Homo sapiens: one gene and its partners. The gene in region 3 interacts genetically with the main gene of each other region. Each region holds a gene or a part of one and is shown on either strand. Other genes may lie near its edges.

What was found. Genes that interact genetically often act in the same process or in processes that back each other up.
Region 1: changes in EHMT2 (region 3) and SLC16A8 together harm fitness less than expected from each alone (positive genetic interaction), as found in Homo sapiens cells (one large-scale study listed by BioGRID).
Region 2: changes in EHMT2 (region 3) and GPX1 together harm fitness more than expected from each alone (negative genetic interaction), as found in Homo sapiens cells (one large-scale study listed by BioGRID).

The regions. Positions count from the first base shown.
Region 1 is NC_000022.11:38,081,385-38,085,477, forward strand, and holds the start of SLC16A8 (monocarboxylate transporter 3), read right to left. Parts: upstream 2,801-4,093; 5' UTR 2,604-2,800; intron 1,978-2,603; 5' UTR 1,658-1,977; intron 1,654-1,657; exon of another isoform or gene 1,498-1,653; 5' UTR 1,490-1,497; coding exon 1,276-1,489; intron 649-1,275; coding exon 505-648; intron 296-504; coding exon 1-295. Other genes in the region: BAIAP2L2 (BAR/IMD domain-containing adapter protein 2-like 2), read right to left, coding at 3,916-3,991.
Region 2 is NC_000003.12:49,356,676-49,359,834, reverse strand, and holds GPX1 (glutathione peroxidase 1), read left to right. Parts: upstream 1-1,481; 5' UTR 1,482-1,556; coding exon 1,557-1,670; coding exon of another isoform or gene 1,671-1,853; exon of another isoform or gene 1,854-1,946; coding exon of another isoform or gene 1,947-2,009; exon of another isoform or gene 2,010-2,068; coding exon of another isoform or gene 2,069-2,087; coding exon 2,088-2,447; 3' UTR 2,448-2,659; downstream 2,660-3,159.
Region 3 is NC_000006.12:31,887,699-31,891,198, reverse strand, and holds part of EHMT2 (histone-lysine N-methyltransferase EHMT2), read left to right. Parts: intron 1-1,596; coding exon 1,597-1,731; intron 1,732-1,856; coding exon 1,857-1,971; intron 1,972-2,128; coding exon 2,129-2,230; intron 2,231-2,451; coding exon 2,452-2,600; intron 2,601-2,692; coding exon 2,693-2,836; intron 2,837-2,922; coding exon 2,923-3,158; intron 3,159-3,237; coding exon 3,238-3,420; intron 3,421-3,500. UniProt on the Homo sapiens protein: Histone methyltransferase that specifically mono- and dimethylates 'Lys-9' of histone H3 (H3K9me1 and H3K9me2, respectively) in euchromatin.

The DNA.
Region 1 (4,093 bases), on a different chromosome or scaffold from region 3:
CCCGGAGCGTCCCCGGCGCGGTCGCCGGCGCTGTCCCTGCGCGGTCGCGGGCCCGGCCCGGGCGGCGGCCTCATGACAGCCCCGCAGGCGCAGCAGTGCAGCAGGAGCCCGCCGAGCAGCAGGAAGCCGCCGCGCCAGCCGAAGCGCTCCAGCAGCTGCTGGCCGAGCGGCGACAGCGCGGACAGGAACACGGGGCTGCCCGCCGCCGCCAGCCCGTTGGCCAGAGGCCGCCGCCGCTCGAAGTACAGCCCCAGCATGATGAGCGACGGCTGGAAGTTGAGGGCCAGGCCCAGGCCTGCGGGCGAGGCGGTGCTGTGCCGGGGTCCCCGGAGAGCCCCTCCCTGGCCCCCACAGGAGGGAGGGGCCAGGCCCGGGAACCCAGCAGATCCGGGAACCCAGCCGAGGGACTTCGAAGACTGTCCCTCATAGGGAAACCGAGGACAGATCTTGCAGCAAGAACCCCCGACCCCCAACCCAGCGGAGAGGAGACCAGGGGGCCCTCACCTGTGAGCACCCCAGCGGTCAGGTAGAGCTCCAGGAGGCGCGTGGCAAAGGAAGCTAGGATCATGCCCGCGGAAGCCAGCAGCCCACCCGCCAGCATCACCGGGCGACAGCCAAAGCGGGTCACGAGGATGCTGGACACGGGGCCTGTGGGCAGGGCAGGGTCACCACCCGGGTCCCGGGATGGCTTGAGTCCTCTAAGGAATAAGGTCACCTCCGGCTCAGGGACACAGAGAGGAGGGCAGTGTCTGGCCAAGGTCACACAGCTTGGAGGGGACAGGCCAAAGAGACAGCATCCTGCGAGGGCAAGGCCCAGAGCACCCCATCCTGCGAACCCAAACCCCAAGCGGAGCGGGGGCTTCCGCACCCCTTTAACCTTCACAGCCTCCAAGTCCCGCCCTGGCACAGACTGGGATTCCTCCGCAGCCCCGCCTCCCAGGATGGGAACTCCAGCAAGCCCCCACCTACAGGTCAGGGCTGCGGGGAGGGGGAGTGCTTCTGTGGCTCTCAGCTTTCCTGCCTCTACAATGGGCGGGTGTGGTCTTAGAAGGGGCCCTCTGAGCTCGCAGGGCAGCCCCCTGGGCCGGCCCCGCCTCTGGCCGCTGTCTCCCTCCCGCCCTCTCTTCCCCTCTTTCTGGTGCCAGGGTTCCCACAGGCAGGAAGGGACTTCGGGGGCCACCCCGAGGGTCAGGGGGATGCTCAGGGGCTCGGGTGTCTCCTGGTTCCGGATCCCAGGGGTCCCGGGGAGGCGGAGGGCCGGGCGGGGACACTGACCCGTGCCGTAGAGCATGGCTAGCATGATGGAGGACACCCAGGCCGTGTCGCTGTAGCCGGCGTCGAAGTCGCGCATGAGCGCGCGGAAGAAGACGCTCACGGCTTTGGGGAAGCCGTAGGCGAAGCCGGTGACCACAAAGCAGGCGCCCAGCACCACCCAGCCCCAGCCGCCGTCTGGGGGGCCCTCGCCCCGCCGGGGGCCGCCAGCGCCCATCGCTGCCTCTGTTGGGAGGGGGCGGGGACAAGAGGGAGGGGCTGGGCCAGCAGCCTAGAGAAGGAGGGGGATGGAGACGAAGCATGGGGAAACTGAGGCACAGGGCTACCCACGTGAGGGTGGCTCAGGTCTGGGAACCAAAAGGGGAAACGGAGGTAGGACTCTCACCCCAAGTCTCCTTCTCCTGCAAAGGGCGCTGAAGGACGAGGGGAGGACGACGGGTCCCACCTGACTCTGCACCTCTGCAGGCTCCCTCTGAAGGACAACTGCTGGCCCCTCAGGGCCTCAGGTGGAAGGCGTCGGGAAGTGGAGCAGGTATGTGCCTGGAGGTGGGCGTCCAGCACCAAAGTCGCCCCGTACGCGTGAGGGTCTCGGGACAACAGAACAAACAGCAGAGGGGCAGATGCCGGCTGCAAAGGGCCGCTGTGCGTGATTTTCCTCTTTAGCCTTCCGCCATGTTCCTAATGTTTCTCAGTGATCACAAATGACTATTGTCATTAGAACATTAAGGGGACAAAAGCCACTTTCAACAGATATCAGCCAGGGGAGCTGAGTTCCCATGCATCTCAGCTCAGCCATGGATTCCCTCCCTGACTTGGGCCGGTCGCCTCCCCTCTCCCAACCTCCCTTTCCTCCGATGTAAGATGGGTGATTGATCACCCCGAGGCCAGCTGGGAATCTTGCGGGAGAGGAGTCAGGTCTCTGGCTTCTGCCAGACAGGTAGGAACCTTAGCAGCACTGAGAGAGTGGCCTTCTGCCCTCCAAACCTCAAACCCTCTATATGAAAAGAATGGCTCCAAAGCCTGTCTCATTCCTGGGGCTCCACCCGGGGCCCTCACAGCAGTTACAAGCGCCCCCATAACAGATGAGGAGGGTGTACTCAGAGACAGGTGCACCAGGAGCCGGGGGCTGGGGATAGCCTCCTGCCCTCCTGCCTGGAGTGTCCCTCCTGGCACTGGGCAGTGCCACCACCCCCAGGGTATCCGGGACTCTGCCCCTCCTCCACTAGGACCAGGTTGTGGCTTTTCCTGCCTGTTGTCCTCTTGTCACAGGGGCAGCCACTTGAAGGTGGAGACAGGAGGGTGATCCCAGGCAGCCCTCACATCACACTCACCTGAGCCTGCCTCGTGGGTTTGGGGGTCCAGCCTCACATCTCCTGAGGCCTGCAGGGAGGGGCCGCCGCCGCAGCTCCCGGTGAAGCTTACCCGGATGGGGGCTGCCAGACACCCCAGCTTCCCACCAGCCTGGGCTGAGCCTCTGGCCGACTCCCGCCTGACGCTCCCTGCCCCAGGCCTGGAGCTTAGAGTGTGTGCCCCCACCACACCTCACCCCTGCTAAGAGGCTTTTGTCCAGGAGGGGAGAAGAGACTGGGAGCCCCAGGCCAGGCTGGGCCTCGGCGGTGGGCTCCCTGTCCCAAGCCAGTCCAGGAGGGAGGAAGAGAATCCCTGTGCCTCCTGGAGCCTGGGGTGGTAGACACAGAGACCTTGCCCAGGGGGTCCTAGTCTGGTGCTGGGGGCACAGCCCTGCCCTGAAGAGACCCCAACGGTTCTAATCACCTCAGTGCCTCATCTGCCCCCGCCCCAACCCCCCGCCCCAGGCCACATTCCAGGAGGGGCTGGCAGCTTTCTCTAGAATGAAGCTAATCCACGCCTGTGCCTGGGAATGTGGGGGGGGGAGGGGCCAAAACAAAGGGTGCTGTGTCCAGGCCGCCTGAGGGCAGCTTGCTGGTGGTCCCAGCCCTTGGCCACTGCCACCTCTCCCCTGACCCGAGCAGCCGCTACTTCCTAGGAAACCCACAGGTCGAAATGAGAGCAGGTGGAGATGGGGGCTGCAGCGCGAGGGCTTTGGGGCAGCCCTAAAGAGTTCTCCAAACAAACAAACAAGGGGCTGGGAGTGAGATGGCTTCCCGGGGAACAGCCAGGACCTCAGTACCCCCTAGACCCCATTCTCCAATGGGGGAGTCTCTATCCCTCACCCCCTGCCCTGTCCCCCAAATAAGACACCACCAGTCCTGCTGCCGCATCACTTTGCGTCCACTTCCTTTATTTCTCATCATTTACAAAAGATGTACAGAGAGGGCATGTGTTGGGCACGGAGCAGGTACAAGGGGCTCCTCCCCACGGGGGCAGAAAAGGGGGAAAGAGGTTAGGGGGCAAGAGGTGGGCCCCCCAGGGAGAGTCCTGGAGCCCCTGGAGGGGGAGAAATTGTCCTGTCCCCCCATTCCGCCTGCTTTACTTTGAAGGTCTCGGACCCCAAGCCAGTGCTTTGGAGCTGCTCAGGCTGCCGGGGTGGTCTGGGGAGGGCAGCCACCCCCCGTCTCAGGGACCCGCTTCTTGGATCTGCTGCTGTTGCTGCTGTCGCTGCCATTGCCAGCTCTGAACAGCCCCTGGGCAGGTGCACTGTGGGGTACGACCTCGGACCCCGCCTCAGCGGATGAGGGGTGCTGAGCGGTCATTGGTGATGGTGGGACGAAGCTTGACAGTGGCAAAAGGATTTGTGCCCCTGTAGGAGGAGAGAGAGAATGGGGTGAGAAGGGCAGATGATCCCCACCTGGCCATGGCTCAGGAAGGCAGCTGGGCAACTGAGCTGGGTCCTGCCTCCTGC
Region 2 (3,159 bases), on a different chromosome or scaffold from region 3:
TACTCTGGTGAGTCACCACTTCAGGGCTTTACTCCGTAACAGATTTTGTTGGCATAGCTCTGGGGTGGGCAGTTTTTTGAAAATGGGCTCAACCAGAAAAGCCCAAGTTCATGCAGCTGTGGCAGAGTTACAGTTCTGTGGTTTCATGTTAGTTACCTTATAGTTACTGTGTAATTAGTGCCACTTAATGTATGTTACCAAAAATAAATATATCTACCCCAGACTAGATGTAGTATTTTTTGTATAATTGGATTTCCTAATACTGTCATCCTCAAAGAAAGTGTATTGGTTTTTTAAAAAAGAAAGTGTATTTGGAAATAAAGTCAGATGGAAAATTCATTTTTTAAATTCCCGTTTTGTCACTTTTTCTGATAAAAGATGGCCATATTACCCCTTTTCGGCCCCATGTATCTCAGTACCCCATGGAGCTGGGCTAAGTAAATAGGAATTGGTTTCACGCCTGAGGCAATTAGACACTTTGGAAGATGGCATAACCTGTCTCACCTGGACTTAAGCATCTGGCTCTAATTCACAGTGCTCTTTTCTCCTCACTGTATCCAGGTTCCCTCCCAGAGGAGCCACCAGTTCTCATGGGTGGCACTCAGTCTCTCTTCTCTCCAGCTGACTAAACTTTTTTTCTGTACCAGTTAATTTTTCCAACTACTAATAGAATAAAGGCAGTTTTCTAAACTTCCTGTATCCTGTTGTTTGTGTTGCTCTCTCCAGGGCTGGGGGTAGGAGGATGCAAGGACTTCCTGGCCTAGCTCACCCTGGAGAGGTTTGTTGAGTGCAAAGGACTAGCTTGTGCCCCACCTCCCACCCACCCAGCAGCTAATCTGGTCCCTCCCAACAACATGGAAATGATTACCCTGTACCGCATTCTGGTTCAGATTTGGGGGTAGGGTGAATGCAGCCTGAGGAGGCCAGGGAGGGAGGACTCCGGCAGCGTTTCCTTGGCCTCGGCGAGCTACTGGGCTCCACTTAAGGAGGCTGGGGCAGAGCTTCCAGGACTCTGCCCGGTTAGAAAACCCGCACGAGGGCGGTGCCGCTTTGGAGACAGGGAGGAGGGAGACCGGAAGCCTAGATCCCTCTGGCTGTCCCCTGCACTGCCGGTAACATGGCACAGGAGAGGAGGGCTGTTTGTGCACGGGCAGCTCCTGCAGCTGCTGCCGTCGCCCACCAGCCTCCTATGCCAAACCCCACATCCTAACTCAGGAACCTCTGAGAAAAAACGGAGCCCTCGAGGGCCCCAGCCCTTGGAAGGGTAACCTGGACCGCTGCCGCCTGGTTGCCTGGGCCAGACCAGACATGCCTGCTGCTCCTTCCGGCTTAGGAGGAGCACGCGTCCCGCTCGGGCGCACTCTCCAGCCTTTTCCTGGCTGAGGAGGGGCCGAGCCCTCCGGGTAGGGCGGGGGCCGGATGAGGCGGGACCCTCAGGCCCGGAAAACTGCCTGTGCCACGTGACCCGCCGCCGGCCAGTTAAAAGGAGGCGCCTGCTGGCCTCCCCTTACAGTGCTTGTTCGGGGCGCTCCGCTGGCTTCTTGGACAATTGCGCCATGTGTGCTGCTCGGCTAGCGGCGGCGGCGGCGGCGGCCCAGTCGGTGTATGCCTTCTCGGCGCGCCCGCTGGCCGGCGGGGAGCCTGTGAGCCTGGGCTCCCTGCGGGGCAAGGTACTACTTATCGAGAATGTGGCGTCCCTCTGAGGCACCACGGTCCGGGACTACACCCAGATGAACGAGCTGCAGCGGCGCCTCGGACCCCGGGGCCTGGTGGTGCTCGGCTTCCCGTGCAACCAGTTTGGGCATCAGGTGCGCCGGGCGGAGCGGGGCGGGGCGGGGGCGGACGTGCAGTAGTGGCTGGGGGCGCCGGCGGTGTGCTGGTGGGTGCCGTCGGCTCCATGCGCGGAGAGTCTGGCTACTCTCTCGTTTCCTTTCTGTTGCTCGTAGCTGCTGAAATTCCTCTCCGCCCTTGGGATTGCGCATGGAGGGCAAAATCCCGGTGACTCATAGAAAATCTCCCTTGTTTGTGGTTAGAACGTTTCTCTCCTCCTCTTGACCCCGGGTTCTAGCTGCCCTTCTCTCCTGTAGGAGAACGCCAAGAACGAAGAGATTCTGAATTCCCTCAAGTACGTCCGGCCTGGTGGTGGGTTCGAGCCCAACTTCATGCTCTTCGAGAAGTGCGAGGTGAACGGTGCGGGGGCGCACCCTCTCTTCGCCTTCCTGCGGGAGGCCCTGCCAGCTCCCAGCGACGACGCCACCGCGCTTATGACCGACCCCAAGCTCATCACCTGGTCTCCGGTGTGTCGCAACGATGTTGCCTGGAACTTTGAGAAGTTCCTGGTGGGCCCTGACGGTGTGCCCCTACGCAGGTACAGCCGCCGCTTCCAGACCATTGACATCGAGCCTGACATCGAAGCCCTGCTGTCTCAAGGGCCCAGCTGTGCCTAGGGCGCCCCTCCTACCCCGGCTGCTTGGCAGTTGCAGTGCTGCTGTCTCGGGGGGGTTTTCATCTATGAGGGTGTTTCCTCTAAACCTACGAGGGAGGAACACCTGATCTTACAGAAAATACCACCTCGAGATGGGTGCTGGTCCTGTTGATCCCAGTCTCTGCCAGACCAAGGCGAGTTTCCCCACTAATAAAGTGCCGGGTGTCAGCAGAACTGTGTGTATGTCCTGTGTCATTGTCATTTGGGAATTCTTTTTCTTTTCTTTTTTTTTTTTTTTTTTTGAGACGGAGTTTTTTGCTCTATTGCCCAGGCTGGAGTGCAGTGGCGCAATCTAGGCTCACTGCAAGCTCCGCCTCCCGGGTTCACGCCATTCTCCTGCCTCAACCTCCTGAGTAGCTGGGACTACAGGTGCCTGCCACCACGCCCGGCTAATTTTTTGTATTTTTAGTAGAGACAGGGTTTCACCGTGTTAGCCAGGATGGTATCGATCTCCTGACCTCGTGATCCACCCGCCTCGGCCTCCCAAAGTGCTGGGATTACAGGTATGAGCCACCGCACCCGGCCTGGCGATACTTTTTCTAACCTCATTGTCATAGTGGTGGGAACTTAATCCTCCTTCCCTTATCCTAGCCAAGTCTGAACTTTCTGTCCTTTTGTCTGCAGCGTGTAGGATCCACTCTTTCCTTTGTGGGAAGTCTGGCTCCTGGCCTGCA
Region 3 (3,500 bases):
CCAAGGCGGGCAGATCACGTGAGGTTGGGAGTTCGAGACCAGCCTGATCAACATGGAGAAACCCCGTCTCTACTGAAAAAAATACAAAATTAGCTGGACGTAGTGGTACGTGCCTGTAATTCCAGCTACTCGGGAGGCTGAGGCAGGAGAATCGCTTGAACCTGGGAGGTGGAGGTTGCAGTGAGCCAAGATCGTACCATTGCACTCCAGCCTCGGCAACAAGAGCGAAACTCCGTCTCAAAAAAAAAAAAATTTTTTTTTGTCTTAGGTCTCTCTCAGTATTTAGGTTTCCCCATCTTCTTTGTGTTTGTTTGTTTGTTTGTTTTTGTTTTTTGAGATGGAGTCTCACACTGTCACCCAGGCTGGAGTGCAGTGGCGTGATCTTGGCTCACTGCAAGCTCCACCTCCTGAGTTCAAGCAATTCTCCTGCCTCAGTCTCCCAAGTAGCTGGGATTACAGGCACCCACCACCATGCCCAGCTAATTTTTTGTATTTTTAGTAGAGGCAGGGTTTCACTATGTTGGCCAGGCTGGTCTCAAACTCCTGATCTCGTGATCTGCCCACCTCGGCCTCCCAAAGCGCTGGGATTACAGGCGTGAGCCACCACACCTGGCCTGATTTCCTCATCTTCTAAAAAAAAATTTTTTGGCCCAGGCGTGGTGGCTCACGCCTGTAATCCCAGCACTTTGGGAGGCAGGTGGATCACCTGAGGTCAGGAGTTTGAGACCAGCCTAGCCAACATGGTGAAAACACATCTCTAATAAAAATACGAAAATTAGCTGGGTGTGGTGGCGGGTGCCTATAATCCCAGCTACTCAGGAGGCTGAGGCAAGAGAATTGCTTGAATCCAGGAGGTGGAGGTTGCAGTGAGCTGAGATCACACCATTGCAATGCAGCCTGGGCAACAAGAGCAAAACTCAATAAATAAATAAGAAAGATTTTTTTTTTTTGCCATTTATTTGTCAAAGAAACCAGCTCAGTTGTCCTACAGAATTTTTCACATTTAGGAGTTGGCTGATTGGGTGGAGATTGACACATCCTCTCTGCCCATATTTCTTGTAAACTGATAGATCTAGAGGCGGAATCAGCTTCAGGTGCCAAGAAGACTTGACAGTGGGTGCAAGTGCTTCTGGCCACATCACATCAGGATGCATGGAACATCTAATCTGGTCATTTTTCTTGTTAGTGATAAGATTGACCAGTGGGTTCAGGTGATGTCAGCCTGAACCTTTCATATAAAGTTTCTCATGAGCTTTGTGTCTAGTGTTTTTAGCAACCATTGGTGGTCTTGCCTGTTTATGAACATCATAAAAGGGGTATCAAAGTATGTTTATCTTCTGGTACTTGCTTTTTGTTTTTTAACTTAATATCACATTACCAAGATCTGTGCACATTGCTGTCTGTAACTTTTTCACTGCTGTGTAATATTCCATGCACCCTCTCTTTATGTGGCCCTTTGTCTCCTCTGCTACCCACACTTATCCCCAGCAGCCATCCGTGGGTAGTGGCGGGGGGCAATGGTGGTGGTGGTTTTCTTTACTCACCTCATTGTCTGAGTCCTGGGGGTTGGATATGTCTGTTCTGCCTCTCTCCCAGTCTGAAGTTGAAGCTCTAACTGAACAACTAAGTGAAGAGGAGGAGGAGGAAGAGGAGGAAGAAGAAGAAGAGGAAGAGGAGGAGGAAGAGGAAGAAGAAGAGGAAGATGAGGAGTCAGGGAATCAGTCAGATAGGGTAAGAGACGGAGGCTGATATCTCCAGAGGAGTGGGAGACTATGGGGCTGGAGGTCTGGTCCTGAAGGTGTTGGGGGGGCCCCTGGGGGTGAGGGTTCCTAACTCCTCCTCCTCCCCCTTCCCAGAGTGGTTCCAGTGGCCGGCGCAAGGCCAAGAAGAAATGGCGAAAAGACAGCCCATGGGTGAAGCCGTCTCGGAAACGGCGCAAGCGGGAGCCTCCGCGGGCCAAGGAGCCACGAGGTGAGGAGGCTCTGCTGCTTTTGGGTGCCCTCCAGCCCCCGCCCGGCCCCCCAGAGTGTGTGCACGCACACACACGCTCTCGCATGTCCACCTGCATGTACCCACGCGTCCAGGCACCTGTGAGCTCGCACTCTCACTCTCTCTGTCTCTGTGTCAGGAGTGAATGGTGTGGGCTCCTCAGGCCCCAGTGAGTACATGGAGGTCCCTCTGGGGTCCCTGGAGCTGCCCAGCGAGGGGACCCTCTCCCCCAACCACGCTGGTAATTGCCAATTGCCGGGACAGGGAGCCACTAGGGGGCGACCTCAGGGCAGGAGGGAAAGGGAAGGAGGGGAACCACGCCAGAGCCGGGGTGTCCATGGCCAGGCTTTAGGGGTTCTGGGGCATGGCGGGGTGGGGTAGGGAGGGAGTGAGAGGACCCGCCAGGGGTCCCAGTAGGTGAGGTGCAGAGCCTCCCTCAGCTCCTCTTTTCCTCCATCCAAGGGGTGTCCAATGACACATCTTCGCTGGAGACAGAGCGAGGGTTTGAGGAGTTGCCCCTGTGCAGCTGCCGCATGGAGGCACCCAAGATTGACCGCATCAGCGAGAGGGCGGGGCACAAGTGCATGGCCACTGAGAGTGTGGACGGAGAGGTGGGGCCGTGGGCTGGTGGGAGAGGTGCCAGGGCGTCCAGTCCCCGGCCCCAGCCTCACGCTCTCTTCTCACCCATCCTCACTGCGCACAGCTGTCAGGCTGCAATGCCGCCATCCTCAAGCGGGAGACCATGAGGCCATCCAGCCGTGTGGCCCTGATGGTGCTCTGTGAGACCCACCGCGCCCGCATGGTCAAACACCACTGCTGCCCGGGCTGCGGCTACTTCTGCACGGCGGTGAGTGACCAGTGGGGCAGACAGGTAGCATGCCCTGTGGCAGAGGGGGCCCCAGTAACCTGACCATGTCGTTTCCCTGCTCCCAGGGCACCTTCCTGGAGTGCCACCCTGACTTCCGTGTGGCCCACCGCTTCCACAAGGCCTGTGTGTCTCAGCTGAATGGGATGGTCTTCTGTCCCCACTGTGGGGAGGATGCTTCTGAAGCTCAAGAGGTGACCATCCCCCGGGGTGACGGGGTGACCCCACCGGCCGGCACTGCAGCTCCTGCACCCCCACCCCTGTCCCAGGATGTCCCCGGGAGAGCAGACACTTCTCAGCCCAGGTACTGGCCTCCCCCTTCTGTACTGTCTGTTCCCTCCCCCACCCCTATTGCTCCTGGACATGAGCTCCTTCTTCCACAGTGCCCGGATGCGAGGGCATGGGGAACCCCGGCGCCCGCCCTGCGATCCCCTGGCTGACACCATTGACAGCTCAGGGCCCTCCCTGACCCTGCCCAATGGGGGCTGCCTTTCAGCCGTGGGGCTGCCACTGGGGCCAGGCCGGGAGGCCCTGGAAAAGGCCCTGGTCATCCAGGAGTCAGAGAGGTGAGTGGGGAGTTGCTCAGGCACAGCAACTGGGGCTGAGGCCAGAGGAGTGGTGTCGAGGCTGATGCTGGAATCTGAGG